Regions from separate parts of the Homo sapiens genome. Here all the other regions are reported to be linked to region 1. The links are microRNA targets in miRTarBase. Many come from high-throughput screens and were not tested one by one. Region 1 holds a microRNA gene; each other region holds the end of a gene's coding sequence.

Region 1 (3,342 bases):
TAAAAAGACAAAATAAAAAATAGAGCACATGTAGTTCACATACAGGACATTCAGATTTGTATGTAGAAAAAAAGTCTGACAGGATGTATGCTATACTATATCTATATTAACAGTGGTTATCTCTGGGTGGTAGAATTATAGGAAAGCTTTTGACTTCTAATTTTTCTCCTAATCTTTTTTTTTTTTTTTTTTTTTTTTTTTTGAGACAGAGTCTCATTCTGTCACCCAGGCTGGAGGGCAGTGGTGCGATCTCGGCTCACTGCAACCTCTGCCCTCTGCCTCCTGGGTTGAAACAATTCTCATGCCTCAGCCATCCAAGTGGCTGGGATTACAGGTGTGCACCACCACGCCTGGCTAATTTTTTGTGTTTTTAGTAGAGAAGGGGTTTTGCCATGTTGCCCAGGCTGATCTCGAACTCCTGACCTCAAGTGATCTGCCCGCCTCAGCCTCCCAAAGTGCTAGGACTAAAGGTGTGAGCCACTGTGCCCAGCCCTTTTCTCCTAATCTTTAATTACTGACCCCAGCTAAATTACTCTCTCCTTTTTGCCTATGTCCTGTTTCCTAAAAATTTAAGCTCAATCACCATGTCCTAGTGGCCACCATCCCTTGCCTTCAGGGACTCAGTGCATCTAAACATTGATGACATGACCTGATTGATGTATCTATCACCTCACAAGATAATCAGTTGTATGAGGGAAGGGACAGGTTTTGTTAACATTCAGTTCCCTAATCAATGCAGAGTCTGAGCAAAACATCTACCAAATAAAAAGATAAGAGTGTTTTGGCCGGGAGTGGTGGCTCTTGCCTGATCCCAGCACTGGGAGGCCACAGTAAGTGGATTACTTGAGACTAGGAGTTCGAGACCAGCCTGGACAACACAGCAAAACCCTAATACAAATATTAGCCAATCATGGTGGCGTGCACCTGTAGTACTAGTGTAGTACTATGGCTACTTGGGAGGCTGAGCTGGGAGGATCACCTGAGCCCAGGGAGGTTGAGGCTGCAGTGAACTGTGATCGTGCCACTGCACTCCAGCCTGGGTAATATGATGAGACTCTGTCTCTCCCCCCAAAAAGTGGTGGTGGTGTTTTTTCTTTTGAGATGAGGTCTCGCACAGTTGCCCAGGCTGCAGTACAGTGGTATGATCATAGCTTGAACTCCTGGGCTCAAGTGATCCTTCCACCTCAGCCTCCCTAGTAGCTGGGATTATGGGCACACACCACTGTGCCCAGCTAATTAAAAAAAATTTTAAGAGACAGATCTCGCTATGTATGGTACCCAAGCTAGAAGAGAGTGTTTTTTGTTTTTTTTTGAGATGGGAGTCTCACTCTGTCCCCCAGGCTGGAGTGCAGTGGCAAGATCTCAGCTCACTGCAACCTCTGCCTCCCGGGTTCAAGCAATTCTCCTGCCTCGGCCTCCCGAGTAGCTGGGATTACCGGCGTGCACCACCACGCCTGGCTAATTTTTGTATTTTTAGTAGAGACGGGGTTTCACCATATTGGTTAGACTGGTCTTGAACTCCTGACCTCATGATTCGATCTCCTCGGCCTTCCAAAGTGCTGGGATTACAGGCATGAACCACCGTGCCTGGCCGAGAGCATTTCTTATATCTGAGATATTTGCTGACTCAGACCCATGTGAAGGACCTATCTTCCCAAGGACAGGATGGACTTGCCCACTGTACTCACCAATCATATCAAGCAGATCCTTTGTGACCTCTTGGCTAGAATTGTTGAGTGGCATGTTTGAGTCAGCCTTCAAATCTCTCTCCATATCTTTCCTGCAGCCCCCAGGTGGGGGGGAAGAAAAGGTGGGGAATTAGATTCTCTTTCAAGAAAATATTGAAGGGAAACTCAGTTTTAGATAATCTCAAAGACAAAAACTTACTGGTGACCTTGTCATTTATGCTTTGATTAAAGGACAATTGGAAACTGCTACATCAGTGGAGAAATTGACTAACAGCTTTACCATAATGACTCACGAGCATCGCAGACTGTATTAAATTTTTTTCTTTTTTAGAGACAGGGTTTAGCCATGTTGCCCAGGCTGGTCTCGAACTCCTGGGCTCAGGCGATCCACTCGCCTCAGCCTCCCAAAGTGCTGGGAATACGGGCATGAGCCACCTCACCCAGCCTGCATTTGTTTACTTATTTATTTATTTTTATTTTTTATTTATTTTTTTGAGATGAAGTCTCGCTTTGTCCCCCAGGCTGGAGTGCAATGGCGCAATCACGGCTCACTGCAACCTCTGCCTCCCAGGTTCAAGTGATTCTCCTGCCTCAGCCTCCTGAGTAGCTGGGATTACAGGCGCCTGCCACCACGCCCAGCTAATTTTTGTATTTTTAGTAGAGATGGGGGTTTCACCATGTTGGCCAGGCTGGTCTCGAACTCCTGACCTCAGGTGATCTGCCCGCCTCAGTCTTCCAAAGTGCTGGGATTACAGGAGTGAACCACCGCGCCTGGCCTGTTTGTTTTAAAGACAGAGTCTTGCTCTTGTCGCCCAGGCTGGTGTGCAAGGGCGCAATTTCGGCTCATCGCAACCTCCTTCTCCTGGGTTCAAGCGATTCTCCTGTCTCAGCCTCTGGAGCAGCTGGGATTACAGGCGGCCGCAACGGCACCCAGCTAATTTTTCTATTTTTAGTAGAGACGGGGTTTCACCATGTTGGCCAGGCTGGTCTCAAACTCCTGACCTCAGGTGATTCATCCGCCTCAGCCTCTCAAAGTGCTGGGATTCAGGCGTGAGCCACTGTGCCCAGCATTTTTTTTTTTTTAAGATGGAGTCTTGCTCTGTTGCCCAGGCTGGAGTGCCATGGCAAGATCTCAGCTCACTGCAACCTCTGCCTCCAGGATTCAAGCAATTCTCCTGCCTCGGCCTCCCAAGTAGCTGGGATCATAGGCGCGCGCCACCACGCTCGGCTTATGTTTGTATTTTTAGTGGAGACGGGGTTTCACCAGACCTCAAGCGATCCACCCACCTCAGCCTCCCAAAGTGCTGAGATTACAGGCGTGCCACCACACCCGGCAAGGCCTGCACTGCTTATGAGTACCAATATAAATATTTGTGGAGTTGAAAGGAAAAAAATTCTTGTGGAGTTGAACCAATTAAATGGCCTCTTTATCCCCTTCCTATGAAGCAGCCAAGATGGCAGAACTTTGAAGTTTTTTTTTTTTTTTTTTTTTTTTTTTTTGATACGGAGTCTCGCTCTGTCGCCCAGGCTGGAGTGCAGTGGCGTGATCTCGGCTCACTGCAAGCTCCGCCTCCCGGGTTCATGCCATTCTCCTGCCTCAGCCTCCCGAGTAGCTGGGACTACAGGCGCCCGCCACCACGCCCGGCTAATTTTT
Region 2 (3,342 bases), not on the chromosome of region 1:
AAACCCCATCTCTGCTAAAAATACAAAAAATTAGCTGGGTGTGGTGGCGGGCACCTGTAATCCCAGCTACTTGGGAGGCTGAGGCAGGAGAATCGCTTGAACCCAGGAGGCGGAGGTTGCAGTGAGCCGCAATTGCACAATTGCACTCCAGCCTGGGCGACAAAAACGAAACTGTCTCAAAAAAAAAATAAAAAATAAAAAATAAATAAAAATGCAAAAAAAAAAAAATAGCTGGGCATGGTGGCACATGCCTGTAATCCCAGCTACTTGGGAGGCTGAGGTAGGAGAATCACTTGAACCCGGGAGGCGGTGGTTGCAGTGAGCTGAGATCATGCCACTGCACTCCAGCCTGGGCAACAGAGCAAGACTCCGTCTCAAAAAAAAAAAAAAAAAAAAAGAATGAAATAAATATTGTTTCTTCCAATTCAGGTGTATTATTTTTTAAATGGCAACTAACTTGTTAGGACATAAATACTTTTTAAGTGATTTGGACTTAACTACTTAATAAATTGAACTGTTATTTCTTTTGGCTTAGAGGCTCCATGAAAAAATTACTGAGATGGTAATGGTGCTGTGAGCTAAGAAAGTTCAGGAACCTATAGTCTAAGAGATTATCTAATCCAGGGCACTTCAAAAACTTGCATATGTGAAATCAATTTAGTGGGTTATAGCCATATTTTTTTCCCTAATAAAACAGAAGGGTAAGCAGAGTACACTGCATGTAGCAAGGGTAAATATTATTGTGTAAAACTTTTGTTCATTTTTTTTATATATATATACACACACACATATCTACAAGTAATCATGTGTATATTGGGTCACAATGTAAAATGGTTTGAAAAACCACTAAGATTCCAAGTCCCTTATTTTACTGATGAGAAAACAGCCAGAGAGTGAAAGCTGATGATTACAAATCACAGCCATGAGAGCTGGGCTCTGCACTCAGCCCTGCTGGGCTGGGTGGCCGCTGCTCACGGTGACCCTTCAAGGCAGGCCTCATTCTGTCCAGTAGAGGTGTGGTTACTAAGTCATAGAGCTACAGAGGTGAGGGACCAGGTGCCCTCACTTTGGTTCCAAGACCCATCTGCACCCCACAAATGCCACCAGCCACACCTAGAACAAAATGGTTTTAATCAATTGCGTCACCCTCACTCTCCTGGGAGCGGAGCAACAAAAAGGCTCGGCTCCTGCCCCCAGAGGACAGTAAGGCTTATGTGTCTCTCCACACTGCAGGGCCCAGGCTGGGCAGGCAGGGGGTGGGAAGCAGGACAGGGGGCAGGGAGGGAGGGTGGGAGGCAGGGAGGAAATGGCAGGTGGCTGGAACACAAGAAAGCAAAGGGGACCCAGCTGGTCCTTGGGCCCCAGGGCCCAGCCCCAATACTCCTGCTCTCCCTTCTCCCTGGCTAGAGAAAGGTCACGGAGAAGAGACAGGGGAGCAGGTCCCAGCAGCAGGAGAAGCAGCAGCAGCTGTTTCCTTCACCAATAAATATACTTCATTACCAAGCTAGAAGAGAGGGGTGGGAAGAGGGACTGGGGTGGGAAGGAAGGGGGAGAAGCTGCCACCTGTGTTGCTGGGATTAAAGCAATGAGATGGTGCCAGACCCCCCACCACTATCCTCACCCTCCACTTGTCTTCTTAAAACTGTGAAAAAGCTTTTAACATGGCCCTCCTGTCTCCAGGGCTGCTCTGAAGCCTGACTGAGAGGAGGCACCTGGCAGAGACAGGGGCTGAGGGAGGGAGCGAGGGAGTGGAGGGAGAGGAGAAGGGAGGCTGCTTTTCCCCAGGGGCTGCAGCTGGAGGGCTGGAGCCAAGTAAGCACTGAAGGGGAAGCAGGGAGGGAGAGAGGGGGAAGGATGAACCAACTACCTGGAGCAGCTGGAGCTAAGAGCCGGGGGCAGAGGGGAGGAGAGGCCTGGTGAGTGGTGGGTTGATCGCTGCATCCAGTGTAAAGCTTGGGGCTGCTGGGGAGGGAGGGGCCGAGTAAGGGACTTTCCCATCTGAGTGGCTCAGGAGACCCACCCCTCTCCCCTCAGAGCAGCAGGGGACAGAGAAAAGCCATCACTTCTTTGGTCTTTGTGGCGGCTCAGCATGTGGGATGGGAAGGAGGGCAGAAAGGGCAGAGAAGGGCCCTTAGCAGGAAGCGCCACCTCAGCAGAGTAGGCCTGGCTGGGAGCTCTGGCAGAAAGGTCACAGTGAGGCTGAGGAGCGCCCAAGAGGAGAATGGCCGTAGTGCAGAAGTGCTGGCATGGATGGGTGGGGTAAGGTGCAGTGCCCCACCCTCTGCCAGGGCCCTTGGGAAAGGCAGAGCCTCCAGAGGTGGCCAGTGAGAGTAGGTGCAGGGCCAGAGCTAGTAGCCAGGAGAGGAGCGAGGGTGCTCCACAGCGACCTCAGCAGGTGGCCTGGTCTTGCCCACTCCAGGGCTCCCATCCTTCCTTTGGGCTCCGCTCTAACACTGGTGGCTCTGGAGGGAGGGTGGGACCCATCCTTTTTCAAAACCTTTCCTGAAGACCACAGGGGAGCTAGCCTTGCAGGCTAGGGAGCAAGAGTGGCAACAGGCCAAGGCGAGCCCTTACCAATTGGGAATCCCACTCCTCCTGCTGCTGCCAGCTAAAGGGCAGGACAGTCCCTGAAGACAGTTCAGCTTGTTCCTCCCCACCTGAGGCAGAAGGGGTTTTGAGGCAGGCCAGAGCCCTCCAGGGACATGAAAGCAGGAGATGGGGGGGGGCATATGGAGGGGTGTCCCCTCCTGCTCTTTTTTTCAGGGCTGGGGATAGTCAGGGGACAATCAGCCCAGAGTCCGAAAGCCAGCAAGTTGTAGCAACCTCCACCCCTAACGCCAAACTAACAAACAAAACAGGGGAAATGAAAAAAAAGGGTGGTGGGGAAGACAAACCAAAACAGAATCCCCTGACCTCCTGCCCAGGGCAGAGGGTCCAGCCAGTAGCAGGGGCTGGGGACCAGGGCTGGAGGGTCTAGCTGGGCCGGCACTGCACCTGGCCCTCAGAGCTGTCCTCATCATCAGAGGCCCCGGCACCCCCACTGCTCAGGCCCGTGATCCGGTAGCCCATGTTGAGCAGCATCACCTCCAACGGGTCTGCATTCATGCGCCGCTGGTTGGCCTGTGAAGCACCCTCCATATCTTCCACGACTCGGCCTGTGAGGTCTTCACTCTGTGGTGGAGAAAGGGGTGACACACGTGGGGCTCAGGGAGGGAGAGGCACCAGGGTACACGTATAGGGGAGGGGGAGGGAAATACACAGACTAAACTATCTATAGGGGGAGGTACACATACATGCCAGGAGGTGTATATGGTGGAGGGGAACACACAACCTTGGCTACAT
Region 3 (3,000 bases), not on the chromosome of region 1:
GGGAAGTGATTTATCCAAAGTCACACGACTGGCAGATGGCTTTAGGAGGCAGTGGGACTTCACAGGGCTTTGTAGCCTCATAGGGTGGAATTAGGAGAGAAAGGGAAGTGACTAGACCAGCAGAGCTAAGGCAGAGAGGAGGATGGTTTGAATACCAGGCTGAACATTGAGTTTTTTTCACATAGGCACTGGGAAAGATAAGCTAGAAAGTCATAAAAAAGGAGGTAGGGAGTTTTTGCCTACCTAGAAGTGTATGAGTGGGACATTTACTTTCTTTAAATTAGGGGCTATGTAGGATAGCCCCTAAGTTGCAGTGGGGTCGAGAGTGCTCTAGAGTTCCACACAAGGTAACCACTGTGCTTTTCTTCTGGTCTTCCTGCAGATATTCCACTGTTGAAAGAAGCATGAGGGCAGCGGCCAGCCTTTCCTCTCTGCGAGGTTCTCTCAGCCCTTCCTCCCTCTCCCTGTGGGATTGAGCACCCTGTACTCTCCAGCCACCTTACCTGGATACCTGAGCTGCCACCTGTGTATCTGTGTATCTCTGAGGGCCCTATAGGCCCACCTTGCTGGAAACTCAAGGAAGATTCTCGCCATCTGCCTGTTGGACAGCTGGAGGAGCTGGCTCTTTGCCTGGCCCCGCCTTCCCATCTGTCAGAGACATATTTGAATGTGCTGGATCAAACCCTCCCTTTTCCTAAGCCTCTGGGTCCCCTCCAGCCAGCTCTTTGGCGGCAGCCCCCACCAGCTCCTGTGGGCCTGAGTGCTGCTGTGTTTACTTGTGCCTTTCCCCCACCCTGTCCAGTTTCCCTGTCATGCAGACTTGTTGCTGTCCACAAGCCTTAGTGGCTGCACTGCTGCCCCCTGCCACACAGGGGGCCGGGCCTGGGTCTGTCCTGTTTCCTTTGAGGGTTGCCCCTACTGCCCTTTGCAGGAACAGATCCAGGTGTGAGAGCTCTTGAGTCAAGAGTGGCAGAAGTGGCTCTAATTGGGGTGAGAGTGTAGTCCCTGGGCTTGCCCTGGGTTGACCCTGGTGGCATATTTCCTTGGCTGAGGATGGAAGATTTGGAGAATCATGTCCATGCTGGCCCAGGACCCAGCCATCTGGCCCAAAGGCACAAGCTCCTGGCCCTGTTGAGTTGAGAGTTTCCAAGAAGCATCCAGAAGATCCCAAGGGAGAGAAGGAAAATGGCTGATAATGATTGTCTTCCTAATATGCAAGTTCTCACTTCCTACTTCCAGCATCGGCCTTCCTGGCCTTGTCTTTTTTTTGTTTCCCTGGAGTATAATGGGAAGTTGCATGCTGCCTCCTGGGTTTTATCCCAGATAGCTCTGGCTTTCTTGCTGCCCACAGGGGCCTGGGGCAGGAAGGAGACTTGCTGAGATGCCATGGAGTGCCCATCTGGTCACTGGCAGTCTGGGCAGGTTGCCCCTTTCTGGGTTTGTGGTGACGGAGGGGAGGCCGAGAGGCACAGACCAAGTCCCCGGGTGGCTGCAGGCAGCTCCAGCCCGGTCCTGAGGATCCTCCTCACCATGGTCACGTGCCTTAGTAACTGTGCCCAGGAAGTGGCCTGCTGCTTGCTGTGCTGCTGCTTTTCCTACTTCTGCCCTTCCCTGCCACCCCTCGCATGTCACAGCTGACAAGCAATTCCTTGTCTTCCCTGGCCCCCTGGGGGAAGGGCTGAGAAACAGTCCGTGTGCACCCCAACCTTAATGGCCTGAGGTGGGCAGAGGGGTGTGGAGCAGCCTGGAGTACAGGGCCCTGGGGGAGGAGCCCACTGATGAGGGGCGCTCTCCCATAGCCATGTGTTGAATGCTAACTAGGCTGGGGTGGACGAACTCTGCCAACTGCTGTCATCTTAGAAGATAGATGCAGCAGTAAGGAATGTTTGTTTTGCTTTTTTCTGAAATTTTCTGAAGCACTGTGGCTGGGAAACTTCGAAGCGGACCCTGTGCTGCATGTCTGCTCCTCCCCTGAGCCTGTCTGCTTGGGGGTGGTAAAAATAAAAATCCCAGTTTATTTTCAGTACCTTACCTAACAGGGTTGGCTCCAGGCGTGGGTGGCCTAGAAGATGAGGGGAGTGGTCTTCTCCCAGCCTTTTACCCTCTTGCCTCCTGCCTCCGCGCTTACACACGCACTTTACCACCCGGTCATTCCCTGGCCTCTTGCTGCCACTTGTAGTCTTCCTTCCTTCCTCTCAGGGTAAGGGCAGTGCCTGCTGTGCCTGTTGGCCACTCCCACACTTCCCCTCCCCCAGGAGCCCTCATCTGCTGTGCTGAGTCCAGGAAAGCATAGTTAGGTAGGGAGCTGGTTGGAGAAGGTGCTAGAACTAGAAGGCAGATGAGACTAGCATGGGCCCACCTGGAGGGCTGTCCCTAATGGCCCCAGTCGCCTTACCTCACCCACAGCAGTGCCCTTGTCTTCCTCCAAAACAGAAAGCAGTGACAAAAGGGGGAGGGGTGGTAATCTGAAGTCTCACTGCTGAGCCTTCAGCTTTTATTTTTCACTGTTTCAAAACCCGCATTCTATTCTAGAATGGTTTTTAAAATGGAAGATCTTACCTTTTTCTATCTTGTTACTCTGGGGTTTTGTCCCCCTAAGAGATTGCACTTTTTGTTTGGGGTTTATTCAGCTGCATAGATGACCAGCTTGATCCCTGGTGAAATGAAAAGCCTTCCTTCTCCTGAAGCCTCTTTCCGCCCTGCCCTCCACTAACAACACTGAGGAGCACAAGCCCAGGCTTGCCCACCTGGTAGGAAAGGAAGAAATTAGAACAATGGGAGCCTTGGCTCCCCTCTCGTCTCCTCCCCTCCTTCTTGTCACTGGCTTTGATGAGGCCCACTTCCCAGAGGCTCCTGGGCCTGTGAGTGCAGGAGCTCATTCTCCCCTCACTGCTGAAGTCTGTGACAGCTTCTTCCTCCAGTTATGTCTTTCTTCCAAAGCAATTTCTTAACCATCAGCCATGTGCTGCTATTTCTAGGGCTTCTGGGCTTTGTCCCTTA

Evidence for each region. The annotated mature microRNA hsa-miR-4271 reads GGGGGAAGAAAAGGUGGGG and lies in region 1 at 1,798-1,816, shown strand. An mRNA with a match to its seed (bases 2 to 7 or 8) in the 3' UTR can be bound and repressed. Matches are read on the target gene's strand: a 7mer-m8 pairs with bases 2 to 8, a 7mer-A1 pairs with bases 2 to 7 and ends in A, and an 8mer does both.
Region 2: miRTarBase lists WDTC1 as a target of hsa-miR-4271. Seed matches in the 3' UTR shown: 8mer at 2,881-2,888, 7mer-m8 at 1,847-1,853 and 7mer-m8 at 1,825-1,831.
Region 3: miRTarBase lists SUSD6 as a target of hsa-miR-4271. Seed matches in the 3' UTR shown: 7mer-m8 at 2,241-2,247.

The regions. Positions count from the first base shown.
Region 1 is chr3:49,272,361-49,275,702 of GRCh38, forward strand. MIR4271 (microRNA 4271) reads left to right here and starts at 1,760; the gene lies at 1,760-1,826. It overlaps C3orf62 (chromosome 3 open reading frame 62), which reads right to left. Exons shown (of 3, transcript NM_198562.3): 2 at 1,689-1,780.
Region 2 is chr1:27,306,015-27,309,356 of GRCh38, reverse strand. WDTC1 (WD and tetratricopeptide repeats 1) reads right to left here. Exons shown (of 16, transcript NM_001276252.2): 16 at 721-3,171. The coding sequence ends at 2,974. Among named protein-coding and RNA genes, the nearest start is that of TMEM222, 14 kb to the left of the region's middle. RefSeq lists enhancers at 525-1,049, 1,050-1,575, 1,576-2,101.
Region 3 is chr14:69,710,572-69,713,571 of GRCh38, forward strand. It overlaps SUSD6 (sushi domain containing 6), which reads left to right. Exons shown (of 6, transcript NM_014734.4): 6 at 383-3,000. The coding sequence ends at 408. Among named protein-coding and RNA genes, the nearest start is that of SRSF5, 55 kb to the right of the region's middle. RefSeq lists an enhancer at 2,621-2,915.